Linked DNA regions of Homo sapiens: all the other regions are reported to be linked to region 3. The links are microRNA targets in miRTarBase. Many come from high-throughput screens and were not tested one by one. Region 3 holds a microRNA gene; each other region holds the end of a gene's coding sequence. Distances are between the middles of the regions.

Evidence for each region. Region 3 holds the annotated microRNA hsa-miR-552-5p (GUUUAACCUUUUGCCUGUUGG, at 1,051-1,071, shown strand). A microRNA usually pairs through its seed, bases 2 to 8, with sites in the 3' UTR of a target mRNA and lowers its output. Matches are read on the target gene's strand: a 7mer-m8 pairs with bases 2 to 8, a 7mer-A1 pairs with bases 2 to 7 and ends in A, and an 8mer does both.
Region 1: the mRNA of SH3GLB1 is a reported target of hsa-miR-552-5p. The part of its 3' UTR that is shown has no 7-base or 8-base seed match.
Region 2: the mRNA of ANKRD46 is a reported target of hsa-miR-552-5p. Seed matches in the 3' UTR shown: 8mer at 1,651-1,658.
Region 4: miRTarBase lists GDPGP1 as a target of hsa-miR-552-5p. Seed matches in the 3' UTR shown: 7mer-A1 at 1,873-1,879.

Annotation. Positions count from the first base shown.
Region 1 is chr1:86,742,862-86,745,963 of GRCh38, reverse strand. It overlaps SH3GLB1 (SH3 domain containing GRB2 like, endophilin B1), which reads right to left. Exons shown (of 9, transcript NM_016009.5): 9 at 1-2,836. The coding sequence ends at 2,729. Among named protein-coding and RNA genes, the nearest start is that of SH3GLB1, 40 kb to the right of the region's middle.
Region 2 is chr8:100,519,725-100,522,826 of GRCh38, forward strand. It overlaps ANKRD46 (ankyrin repeat domain 46), which reads right to left. Exons shown (of 5, transcript NM_001270377.2): 5 at 1,048-3,047. The coding sequence ends at 2,831. Among named protein-coding and RNA genes, the nearest start is that of ANKRD46, 38 kb to the right of the region's middle.
Region 3 is chr1:34,667,619-34,670,720 of GRCh38, reverse strand. MIR552 (microRNA 552) reads left to right here and starts at 1,027; the gene lies at 1,027-1,122. The region is part of intron 1 of LOC105378641 (a long non-coding RNA gene); the gene reads left to right.
Region 4 is chr15:90,241,807-90,244,908 of GRCh38, reverse strand. GDPGP1 (GDP-D-glucose phosphorylase 1) reads right to left here. Exons shown (of 4, transcript NM_001013657.3): 4 at 1-3,102. The coding sequence ends at 2,843. It also overlaps a transcript of CIB1 not described here. Among named protein-coding and RNA genes, the nearest start is that of TTLL13, 6.2 kb to the left of the region's middle.

The DNA.
Region 1 (3,102 bases), 52 Mb from region 3:
AATCACTTTTTTTTTCATTTATAGAAGAGCCTACAATTATTTTAGTTTTTCATTCATATGTGCATCCTTCACATGTCACTATACTTTCAGATTAAGCTCAGTGGCACAGAGCTTATTTAAACAATTCTGAACTGCACCATGAATTAATAGGCTTCCCAAGCTTTTTCTTCCACGCCCAAGAAACTTCAGGCCTTTACCTGAGTAAAAACTAAACTTGACTTTAAAATAAGCCAAAACCAAAATAAAACCCAAACAACCAAACCCCATTAAAATAAAAAGCAATAAACCTAAGAACAAGCATATATATTGTGGTGGTTCTGTGGTAGACAAACGTACCAGAAGCCTTTGAAGCTTAACATTATTGAAGGTTTCTGTACATTACTGGGTAACTAAAATCAACTTTCACTTGATGGAAAGCTGAAAGTTCTGAAAAATGATTTATACTGACTGTGGGAAGGTTAAACCTGGGGTCTGATTTAAAGAGGGTGGAGGATAGGATTGATAGAGAGAAAACAGAGCCCAGATGTAAAAGAGGTATCTCTGGTGCACAGTGATATGCAAGGCCTATAGACTTGGTAGGTCAGGATGCTACAGGGGCTAACAAGGGGAAACTGATATTTACAGGATGTGTTTACTATGTGCCAAGCCTTTCCCTGAAAGGCACCTGAAATACAAGATAACATTTGCTAATCCTCACAACCACCCTATGGTGTCATAATTATTGTCCTCATTTTACTGGTAAGGAAAAGGCAGTTATACATCTCATTTGAAGCTTAAAGAGCACAATATGTGAGGAAGACTGGATTTGAACCCAGGACCATTTCACTCCATTACCGATATTCTTTCCCCTGTATTACTACATTTCCCATAAACCTAATTCATAGTTGCTGTTTAAGTCGATCTGAAGTTTTGGTATGATCTTTCAAAGCCTAAATCTGGACTTATAAAACACAATAGATGGTACTCTAGGCTGTAGAACTTCCTTTCTGAGGGGAGAGAAAATTTCATTTACTTGGTTTTACAGAAAACTGACCAGCTTGAGCAGCTTTTCAGGGTTTCTTTAAGAATATGGCAATTGAGAGTGAGTCAAAACATCTTGTACAACTATAAAACTGCAGAAGAATTTGTCTCATGGCACAGAAATAAAAGGGTAACTACTACTTTTAAAGTTTAGACTGTGAGTTAAATTGTCAACATGTTTACCAAGTTCTTATTAGGAGCTCTTAACACAAAATTTTAAAACGGTGTTTAAGTATTCATTTTTTTAAAAGTACCAAAAAGTATCATTTTAATAGCTTAACATTCCCTCAATAAATGAACTATACTTTTGTACTTCATGCTTAAGTTAGAGTAAATTGCTTTAGTTGTCAGAATGTGCTATGCTATCTTGGTTACACATCTTTTTATCTGGAACAGTTCTTCCCCAGACCCTCTCTCACTCCCAAAACTGGAGTTACATGACTCCCAAATACAGTACCTTGTATTTTCCCCATCACACCACGAATCCTACTATAGGATAATTGCTTAATTTTCTGTATCCTTTAATGGTCTTTAAGCTCTGCAGGGGCAAGAACTGTGTGCATATTGTTCAGGACAGTATCCCCAGTTGACCAGCACAGTATCTGGCCCTCAACAAATGTTTGTTGAATGAATGAATTAGAACAGAAGTCTTAACATGGAAACAATGATTTATAGCAATGGCCCCAACAGCAATTTTCTAGCTTCCAATGTGTCACTAATAATTTCATTAGTATGTGTTTCATAAGCAGAGATCCTCATCAAGATAGCCTGTGTTCATTAATAAATTTTCAATGTTTTAATAGTAAGCTCAGAGTGACCCAATTTATTTTGTTCGTATACAATTTATAATGTAGTTGCATTATTCCGTATTTGTATACAAATCTGCTGTTCAATAAGAACACATTCTCTTTACTGTACCACAGTACAGTAAATGGATCCAATCCCAATTATGCATTAAATTGTGCCAACTGAATAATCTTAAAAACTTTATGTTTAATGAAGTAAATTTGTCCTAGATTTTCTAGAACCTTAACTACAAATTTATCAGAGAAATACGGTATTGCTTTTCAAGAACTAGTTGTTCTTAAATTTAAAAGAAACCATTCAGTAGTGTTTAAAAAACCAAACAACTCTGAAAATAACCCATCAAAACATAATATTAAAATCATTTGATTTCTGTTGGAAAACCAGGTAAACATAGTTTAAATGCGTTTTTGTCTATGAAAGCATTCAGAAAATTCTACTTTTCACAAAAGAGGTTTATATCCTACAGCTCTTTTTAAGACCGAAAGTTTAAAATAAATTTTAATTTTATTCTTTGGCTATTATTTATACCTAATAAATGAGTCGCTGATATCAATTCACAATAGATTTATTTTACATAAAAGAAAAAGCTTGCTGTTAATGAAAAATCCAGTAGAAAACAGTTCTGCTTTAAGTTGAGGCTCAAAAGTAGAAGCTGCTTATTAGTGAAACCTCAATAAAAAGAGAATTTTGTAAGAAAACATTCTTGGCATGAAAGCTCTAACATAAATTCTGTAATGAAATATTTACCATGCAACTTTATTGGCAGAAAGGCCAGTTTCTGATGGCTGGTATTTTCAGTCTCTTAACACATTAACATGGAAGATACTTAACCTGCTTTATTTAGAGTTAATTGTATATAAATACAAAGTCATGATGGGCAACCTTTCCATAGTCCACCTACTTAATTGAGCAGTTCTAAGTAGGTAATTGGCACCTTGCCCTTCTGGTTTCCCCTTTCCCCCATTAGCCAGTCTGAATCCATTCCAACAACACTGAACACAGTGATCACCTGCAAAATAAAATACTTCCAGTTATTAACTACATTAAAAAAATAAACAAGTAGAAAACCAATCAGATTTGTATTTAATTTGTTTAAATTATTCACCAAAAGGACTTTAAACGTTATTATCAATTGTGCTGAAAAACAAAGGATTTATTTATTATTATTAGTTTTTTGAGGCAGGGTCTCACTCTGTTGCCCAGGCTGTAGTGCAGCAGCATGATCACGGCTCACTGCAGCCTTGACCTTTCGTGTTCAAACGATCCTCCCACCTT
Region 2 (3,102 bases), not on the chromosome of region 3:
ATCGGAAGCCTGCATGCTCCACAGGTGAGGGGGCTCCACACTGCCAGCCTGTATAGTTCGTTCATGAAGCTACAGGCGCACTGTGGAAGGAGGACCAAGCACAGCTCACACCTGCAGCTTGTTGCGGGGGATGCATAAAAGGCAAAGAGCTATTCAACCTGAAAAGAAAAAATATAGCTACAGGTATAAAAGCAATGCTATAAGTATTTGTGTACCAAGAGCTCTACAGGATGCTCTGTAGACAGATGGGGTTATAAAAATAGACTAAGTCCCTGCTCTCATGAAGCTTACAATTAAACAAGTTAGAAAGAAAATCATGTTTACAGAGAAACGGATCAAGGAATGCAAAATACAAGTAATAAAACTGAGTGTGGTAAGTGGTGGGGAAAGGAGGGGTTGGGAAGGAGGCAGTCAAGTACGGTTAACTATGGAAGACTTTCTGACAAGCCAGGGTTGGAGCTTGAATATTAAAGCTTCTACCACTGGGAAGATGTGTAAGAAAGGAAAAAAAGTAAGTATATAGGACCACGAGTGGAAAATTTAGTAATGTCCTGCTGAAATGGTATCAGGCGAGGTTCTGGATAAATATGGTTCCATTTCCAGATTCATGAAAGACAGCGGGACAGGAGGAAAGCACAAGCATAATTGGGGCTGGAGCCTCAATCTGGAATCCCTCTTCCACCAGGTCCTACCTGTTTGACCTTGGACAAGTTACTTAGCCATCCCTGTGTCCATTTTCTCATCTTATAAACTGGGGTCATGTAGTGCTCAAGGGGGCGTAGGGTAAAACTTGCATGCTAAAAACTTGCATAATTGGGAGGGGCTTAATTGTGGTAGTTATGATCATCACCCTTAAATCTACGAGCAATTCACTCAAATTAATTTCACAGTATTTATAAGGCAAACATATATGAAACTCAATATACCTAATACATTAGGTTTGAAAAAAAGCTGTGTTTTAAAAAGCAGCTAATTGCAATCCATTACAAAATCCCCAAATTAAAACTATAATACACTAAAAAAAAAAAAAAAAAAGAGAAATCGTGATTAAGGGATATATAAATACATTTATTGGTGGTATTCCTGAATGATGAATGCAGAGAACAGAATACAAAGAAATCAGCACATAAAAGGAACCATTAATCTTTAAAAATGCTATATACTTACATTTTGACCAATTTTGCATATTTGTTTAGATTTACAAACAAATGTAAAGCTAATTCCAAAGTTTTCTTCTGAATATACTTCAAATTTGAATTGTAGTGTTCTCCATTCCAAAGCCAGCTGTTTTTTGCTGGATTTACACCAACTATGATTTACTTTGTTTGTATCTAACCTAAAAGCAAGACTCTGCAAGCTGATCCTGAAGCAGCCAGTTACTCAGGAATTTTACAACAGCTATTAAAGAGAGGATAAAGCCACATGAAAGAGCAAGCCTCAATACTAGATACATAGATACAAGAGAAAATACCAAGAAGCAAAAAGAATCACAGAAATACCAATTCTATTCTAAAGCATAATTTCTAATTCTAGCAGCAATTCAATTAGCAATAGCTTAGGTGCCTTTATTCCAAAAAACAAAACCATTAGTTCTTTCACTACAATTTCCTGACTTTACCCAATAAATAATTATCAAGCCTTCATATTCTTTTTTAACCACTCAAGAACATAATTCATACATTACAGAATCATTAACAAAAGAGGCCTTCAAACATACTGCTGAAAGCTGCAATATAGTTTGAGGGCCAGATTTCAATTTACATAATATTACCATTCATAAAGAGTTTATGACACCCAGTACGATACTGTCCAGCACTGTTAACTCAGAAATGCTCCATCCATTCTTGCCATCAGAGAATTACAGATATGGATGGGATTGTTAAAAGTCTAACAGGGCCTCCAAATAGGATTGCACATGAAATAATTATGAACTATGATAAAACTGTGACAACACAGCTAGCTTATAGAACTGAGTTTTTCACTATAATAGCACTACAGAATTATGACAGTTAAATATCAGAATTATTTTTCCCTGCTAACTATTCAGTAGAAAAAGGATTTTCTGACTGTAATTCTGATGAACTGTTATCTTTGATGACTAGGATACTCGGGAAAATTGGAAAGTGAACAAAATGAACTCATTTATTTTTCACAGATATTAACAAGCAAAGCAGTTTACAAAAAGATCAAAAATTATCCTAAAAACAAATAAATATAAGATCAAATCAATTATCTTTGAACAAAATATAGCTCATTTTCAAAAGTTTTGTTTGGTTTGTGACTAGACTTAAAAATACTAAAATAAGCCAAATAGATGCTAACAATACTAATTTGCACACAAGATTTGAAAAAAGTACTTCAAGTTTTATCTCTTATCCCTAGAGAAAGTAAATAAAAAGTGGCTCTTGCAAAAATAAATGAAAACAAAACCACCAACAAAAACTAATCATATAAGATACTGTTTTTCTTTTTGAATACTTCAATTGGTCCTATATTAGGATAAGGTTTTGATAGCAAGGACTTCCTAGCTTCTTCCTTTATCTTCCATTCTCTAGTCACTTCCGTGTTTTTATCAAACAAGGCTACGTGTAGGCTTTCCTACAAAGTCAGGTTGAGTCAGAGGTAGCGTTAGGATGCAATATACTTGATCATAGTATGTAGTTAGTTCAAATGAACACATCATTATCTAAAAGGATTACAATAATTAAAAATGCAAAAAGAACATGTACTGCCCTCACTGCTTTGCGCTAAGAAAAATTCTGAGAAACTGAGAACAAACATTGGAAGCCAGGAAACAGGCAATTAATTGCCTCATCTTCCATGAGCTCCTTTAATGCACCAGTTCAGGCTGGTTTTCCACGAAGGGTAGCACCCCACTCACATAATAAGCAATGCCAAGAGACAGCAAAGCAATGACGAAGATCAACAGCAATACTCTCCAGAAGCCCAGATCCTCCACAAACTCCTGCCACGTGGTTCGGAAGCTGGAGAGGACTCCTTCACCTTGCTGCAGGTTGGGATTGAGGAGTGAATGGCTTTCCATGGCACTGTGGAAGAAGAAAGAGCAAAAAGGGCATTAAAAAAACACAGCAATTCCAAAAA
Region 3 (3,102 bases):
AGTAAAGGAACTATTTGTATTTATTTGTATGATTATTTGTAACTTGGGAAATACAAATGAAATAGATATCATTATATGCCCATTACATTGTTAAAATTGAAAAAAAGTCTGATAAGATCAAGTGCTAGCAAAGGCATGGAGTAATAGGAACTTTTACACTGCTGGTGGCAGTTCTAAGTGATGAAATTTCTTTGGCATAAATTCAGCATTATCTAATAACATTAATAATGCACATACCCTGTGATCCAGAAATGTTACTAGGTCTATACCTTAGAGAACTTATATAGGTGCAGCAGTGGACACATCAAGAAAGCCCATGGTAACATGGCTTGTGAAAGCAGAACAATAAGCAATGTCCATCAATAGTATAATGATACAGCAAAATACAAAACAATAGTAGAATGATACAGCAACAAAACCAAAAAAATCCATCTGCATAGATAAAACTGAGGACAATAATCTTGGGTAAAAAAGCAAGCTATAGACAAGTTGCTGAGTAGGAGAAGATATTTTCAAATCACACACCTGAAAAGGACTAGAATCTTGATTATATAAGAGCTCTCAAAACTCAATGGTAAAAAGAAAACAAGTAATCTACTAGAACATGGGCAAAACACATGAATAGATATTCCATAGTGTAAGTTATTCAAATGGCAAAAAAAATCCATGAAATATGTTCAACATAAGGGTAATGCAAATTAAAACCATGATAACATATCACTATGCATCTATCAGAATTGCTAAAATAAAAAAAAAATGAGAACACCCAACATTGGCAAGGATGTAGAGAAATAGGCTTGTTCATATATTGTTGATGGGATGTAAAATTGTAGATCTAGCCTAGAAAACAGAGGGCAGCTAATTATAAAACCCAGCATGCCTATGACCCAGCAGTAGCGCCCTCAGGTGTTTATCCCAGGGAAATAAAAACTTATGTCCACACAAAAACCTGGGGAGCTTTATTTGCAATAGCCAAGTGTTCACAGCAGCTTTATTTGTAATAGTCGAATATACTACAGTTTGTTTAACCATTCAAATATACCACAGTTTGTTTAACCTTTTGCCTGTTGGTTGAAGATGCCTTTCAACAGGTGACTGGTTAGACAAACTGTGGTATATACACAGGATGGAATACTACTCAGCAATAAACAAGCAACAAGCTATTGATTACAAACAACTTGGATGAATCTTTGGGGAATTATTATGAGTGAAAAAAGTCAATGCCAAAGGCTACATATGTATGATTACATTTATATAACATTTTGAAATGACAAATGTTACAGATAGAGAAGGGATTAGTGGTTGTTGAGGGTTAAGAATGTGGTGAGGTGGAGGGAGGTGGTTATAAAGGCACAACATGAAGGATCCTCATGGTGATGGACTGGCTGATGTCTTGACTTTAGTGATGGACACACACACACACACACAGACCACAAATGATACAAGTAAATTGGAGAAATCTGGGTAAGACTGGTGAGCTGTATCATGTCAATATCCTGGTTATGATATTGTACTAGTGTTTTAAAAATGTTATTGTATTAGTCTCTTCTCATGCTGCTGATAAAGACATACCTGAGACTGGGTAGTTTATAAAGGAAAAGAGGTTTAATGGGTTTACAGTTTCACATGGCTGAGGAGGCCTCACAATCATGGCAGAAGGTGAAAGGCACGTCTTACATGGTGGCAGATATGAGAGAAATGAGAACCAAGTGAAAGGGGTTTCCCCTTATAAAACCATCAGACCTTGTGAGACTTATTCACTACCATGAGAACAGTATGGGGGAAACCACCCCCGTGATTCAATAATCTCCCCCTGGGTCCCTCCCACAACACGTGGGAATTATGGGAGCTACAACTCAAGATGAGATTTGGGTGGGGACACAGCCAGACCATATCAGTTACCACTGGGGGAAACTGGATAAATGGTACACAGAATTGCATATGAATTTATAATTATCTCAATAACAAATTCTAATTAAAAATTATTAACTCTTTCACTCAAAAATTTCAGAAACAAATTTATCATAGCTTTGACTTGGCTACAAAAACCCCAAGCCATACAAACCTACATAACTGCAAGATTCTAGTCTTAGAGATCAAAAACGTATTAAACAATATATTGTTCAGGATATAAGGTGATAAAGAAAAAAAACATTGGAGAATGAATTCAGATTAGCATTTCTCTGGGTTACGAAGAGAGGCAATCAGATCAAAGAGGTCATGCTTGATGGTCACGCTTTCATTTCTAAACTGGATGGTGGGATACACGAATGTTCCCTTTATTGTTATTCTTTGTACAGCAGACATGTTTTATAAATATCTTTTGTACCCACTCAGTATTTAATGAAACCTTGTAGAAAGTCTTTGGTGTGTGTTGGTGTATATGTTGTGTGTGTATTTGTATTTGGCAATGTATGTTTCCACCTCCTGAGCCTGGCAAGCTCTTTCCTGCCACAGGACCTTTGCACTTGCTATAACCTCTTCTGAGAACTCTCCTTCTTTGGTTCTTCAAAGATTGTGGTCCCACCTCAGCTCAGGCAAGTGAAGTGAAGAGACTTTCAGATCAATGCGTATGCATCCTGAATGGTCTTGTTTGTTGATTCATGTATCTGCCTCTTCTGACTAGAATGTAAGTTCCCTGACGTCAGAGAGCTCCTCTAACTTATTCAACCATTACCTAGACGTGGGTTGACAGACTGAACGAATGCATATTTATGCATATGAATTTAGGGTCTAAAAAAAGCATGCCAATTGAAAGTGTTGGCTTCCTAAGAATTTCTTTGGGCTACTGACTATTTTACTCTTTAATAGTATCATGGTAAACTGGGGGTTAAATTGCTTTTGCAATTATTGAAGGTCTGAGTGAAGGGAGTTACGTAGAATAACAAGGGGCATGTCTTTGAAGGACACAGGTAACAGCAAAGAACAAGTTTAAAAGAGTTAAACACATTCTAGCTAAAGAGGGAATAAGTTTAAATTGGGTTATTTTCCCTGGAGATTATTGCAATTTTAAGAGTAATGCTGCTTCCAAGAATGTTAGCTTTTCTCTTGGTGACCATGGATATAACAGTGTGTGGGTCCGTCATTAATCAGGATAAGGCA
Region 4 (3,102 bases), not on the chromosome of region 3:
TCATTCCTTCAGGATGTTTGATGAAGGAGTGGTGGCGGTGATAATCTCTGTTGAGAGCTGGACCCAAGACTTTATGTATTTATTTATTTTGAGACTGAGTCTCGCACTATCGCCCAGGCTGGAGTACAGTCGTGCAATCTCAGCTCACTGCAACCTCCGCCTCCTGGGTTCAAGTGATTCTCCTGCCTCAGCCTCCCAAGTAGATGGGATTACAGGTGGCCGCCACAACGCCTAATTTTTGTATTTTTAGTAGAGATGGGGTTTCACCATGTTGGCCAGGCTGGTCTCGAACTCCTGACAAGTGATTTGCCTGCCTCGGCTTCCCAAAGTGCTAGGATTAAAGGTGTGAGCCAACGTGCCCAGCCAACCCAAGACTTCTTTTACTTTTGCTGTATAACATTCAAGGGAGCTAAAAGGAAAATGAGATTTCACACCCACATACTCTCTTAGAATAGTGTCTACTGACTAGTTCCTCTGGAACCAGTGTGAAATGTCTGGAGAAACAGGACAGAACAAAGCAATGAGATAAAAAAAAATTTCCCACATTGACTCAGATGCAGACGGAGGAACAACGACTTAGCTTTGGATTTTGTGTCTACATCAAGAGGAGCTTCTAAAGTGCTTGGGAAAGACCCCAAGAGGGATGGCTGAGGCTCAGGGAGGGCAAACTGTTAAGGACAGTGCTACCCACCATGGGAACCACTGACTGGAGAGGCGGTCACAAGCACACATTGTCCCAGCTCATCTTCTGGTACCTGCCTGTGCTGCAGTCCCGACTCCAGCTGCCTGACCTTGAACAAAGTACAAACTGTCAGTCTCCATCCCGTTTTGAATGGGGGTATTAAGAAGACTCAGGCTGAATTGCTTGAACCCAGGAGGCAGAGACGCAGTGAGCCGAGATCACACCACTGCACTCCAGCCTGGGCAACAGAGTGAAACTCTGATTCAAGAAAAAAAAAAAAAAACTCAGGCCAGGTGCAGTGGCTCATGCCTATAATCTCAGCACTTTGGGAGGCTGAGGTGGGAGGATCTTGAGGCCAGGAGTTCGAGACCAGCCTGGGCAACTTGGCAAGATGCTATCTCTCCAAAAAAATAGCCGGGTGTGGTGGCGCATGCCTGTGGTCCCAGCTACTAGGGAGGCTGAGATGGGAGTATTGTTTGAGCCCAGGAGGTTGAAGCTTGCAGTTAGCTGTCTTCATACCACTGCACTCCAGCCTGGGTGACAGTGACCCTGTGTCAAAAAAAAAAAAAAAAAAAAAAAAAAAAAACCTGCACCAAGGTGTGGTGGCATCTTAGCACTCTGGGAGGCCGAGGTGGGAGGATTTCTTAAGGCCAGGAGTTTGACAGCAACCCGGGCAACATAGCAAGACCCTATCTCTACAAAAAATTTAAAAATTAGCCAGGTGTGATGGTGCACACCTATCGTCCCAGCTACTCAGGGGGCTGAGGTGGGAGGGTGGCTTGAGACCAAGAGTTTGGGTCTGCAGTGAGCTGTGATTGCACCACTGCACCCCAGCCTTACAAAAAAACAAAACAAAAAAAGACGTGCACCCGGAAAGTTGTGACAACACTGTGTTTTTACATCAGATGATGTCAGTGAAGAGCATTCAACTTGGTGTTGGGGGCTAGAGGAAAGCTCAAGGTGGCAGGGAAAGTGAAGGAGTGGGGCATTTGGGTGGAGCAGGGCTAAATGGAAAGAAGGGACAAAGCAATAAAAATAAGTGGTGAGCAAAGGGGAATAAACAGGCTGAGAACAGAAGTGGCAGCTCAATACTGGAGGCACAGGCACTATTACCGTGCTAACATTTGATATCAAAGGAAGACAAAATCTAAATGTAAAGTCAGGAGTGTGTAACTGTCACACACACTCCTTTTTAACACCCCTGGGGCTTGAACAAGAACGGGGAGAGGTAGCAGATACATTCATGATGTCTTACTCAGTAGAATTATTCCAGATTTTCTCCCCTTTAAAGAGACCACTATCAGCTCCCCTTTAAAGAGACCATTATCTTTCTCCCCTTTAAGAGATCATTATCAGCTTTCTTCATCCTTCTTCTTAGGCTGAGACAGGTGAGAAGGCAGCCATGAAAATAAATGTCCAAAGGACTATGATGGACAGTGCTCTGGAAAGGGACTCATCAGGTAGAAAATGAATACATCCTGGCTGGGTGTGGTGGCTCACGCCTGTAATCCCAGCACTTTGGGAGGCCGAGGCGGGCGGATCACCTAAAGTCAGGAGTTCAAGACCAGCCTAGCCAATGTGGTGAAACCCCTTCTCTTTTAAAAATACAAAAAAATTAGCCGGGTTTGGTGGCAGGAGCCTGTATAGTCCCAGCTACTCGGGAGGCTGAGCCAGGAGGATCACTCGAACCCTAGAGGTGGAGGTTGCAGTGAGCCGAGATTGTACCAGTGCACCCCAACCTAGGTGACAGAGCGAGACTATCTCAAAAAAAAAAAAAAAAAAAAAAAAAAAAAAAGAAACAGAAAAGAATCCAGGGGCTCACTCCTGTCATCTCAGTACTTTGGGAGGCCGAGGTGGGAGGACTGCTTCAGCCCAAGAGTTCAAGACCAGCCTGGGCAACATGGTGAAACGCTGTCTATATAAAAAAATACAAAATCACCTAATCGTTAAAAAAAAAAAAAAAAAAAAAAAAAGCCAGGTGTGTGGTGGTGCACGCCTATAGTCTCAGCTACTCAAGAGGCTGAGGTGGGAGGATCACTTCAGCCCCAGAGGTGGAGGCTACAGTGAGCCAGGATCATACCACTACACTCTAGCCTGGGGACAGAGTGAGACCCTATCTCAAAAGAAAAGAAAAAAAGAACATAAATACATCCAGAAGTATTATTGCTCTTCCTGGGACATCAGGGCCACCAGTGCTGCCTGTACGTCTTCTGCCTGGGATGGGGGCAGCCGACAGTCCTGAATGAGGGCCACAGCAGCTGCCTCTGTCAGGCTGCTGAAGTCCTGGGATGTTTTGACAGGGAGGTGCCCAGCCAGCTCACAGAGGGCAACATTGAAAGCTTCACCGTCCTTTATCCCAAAGCTGGACTTCCGGGCCCACAGAATTACTCGGACCCCTGTGAGGGCTGAGGAAGGTGATG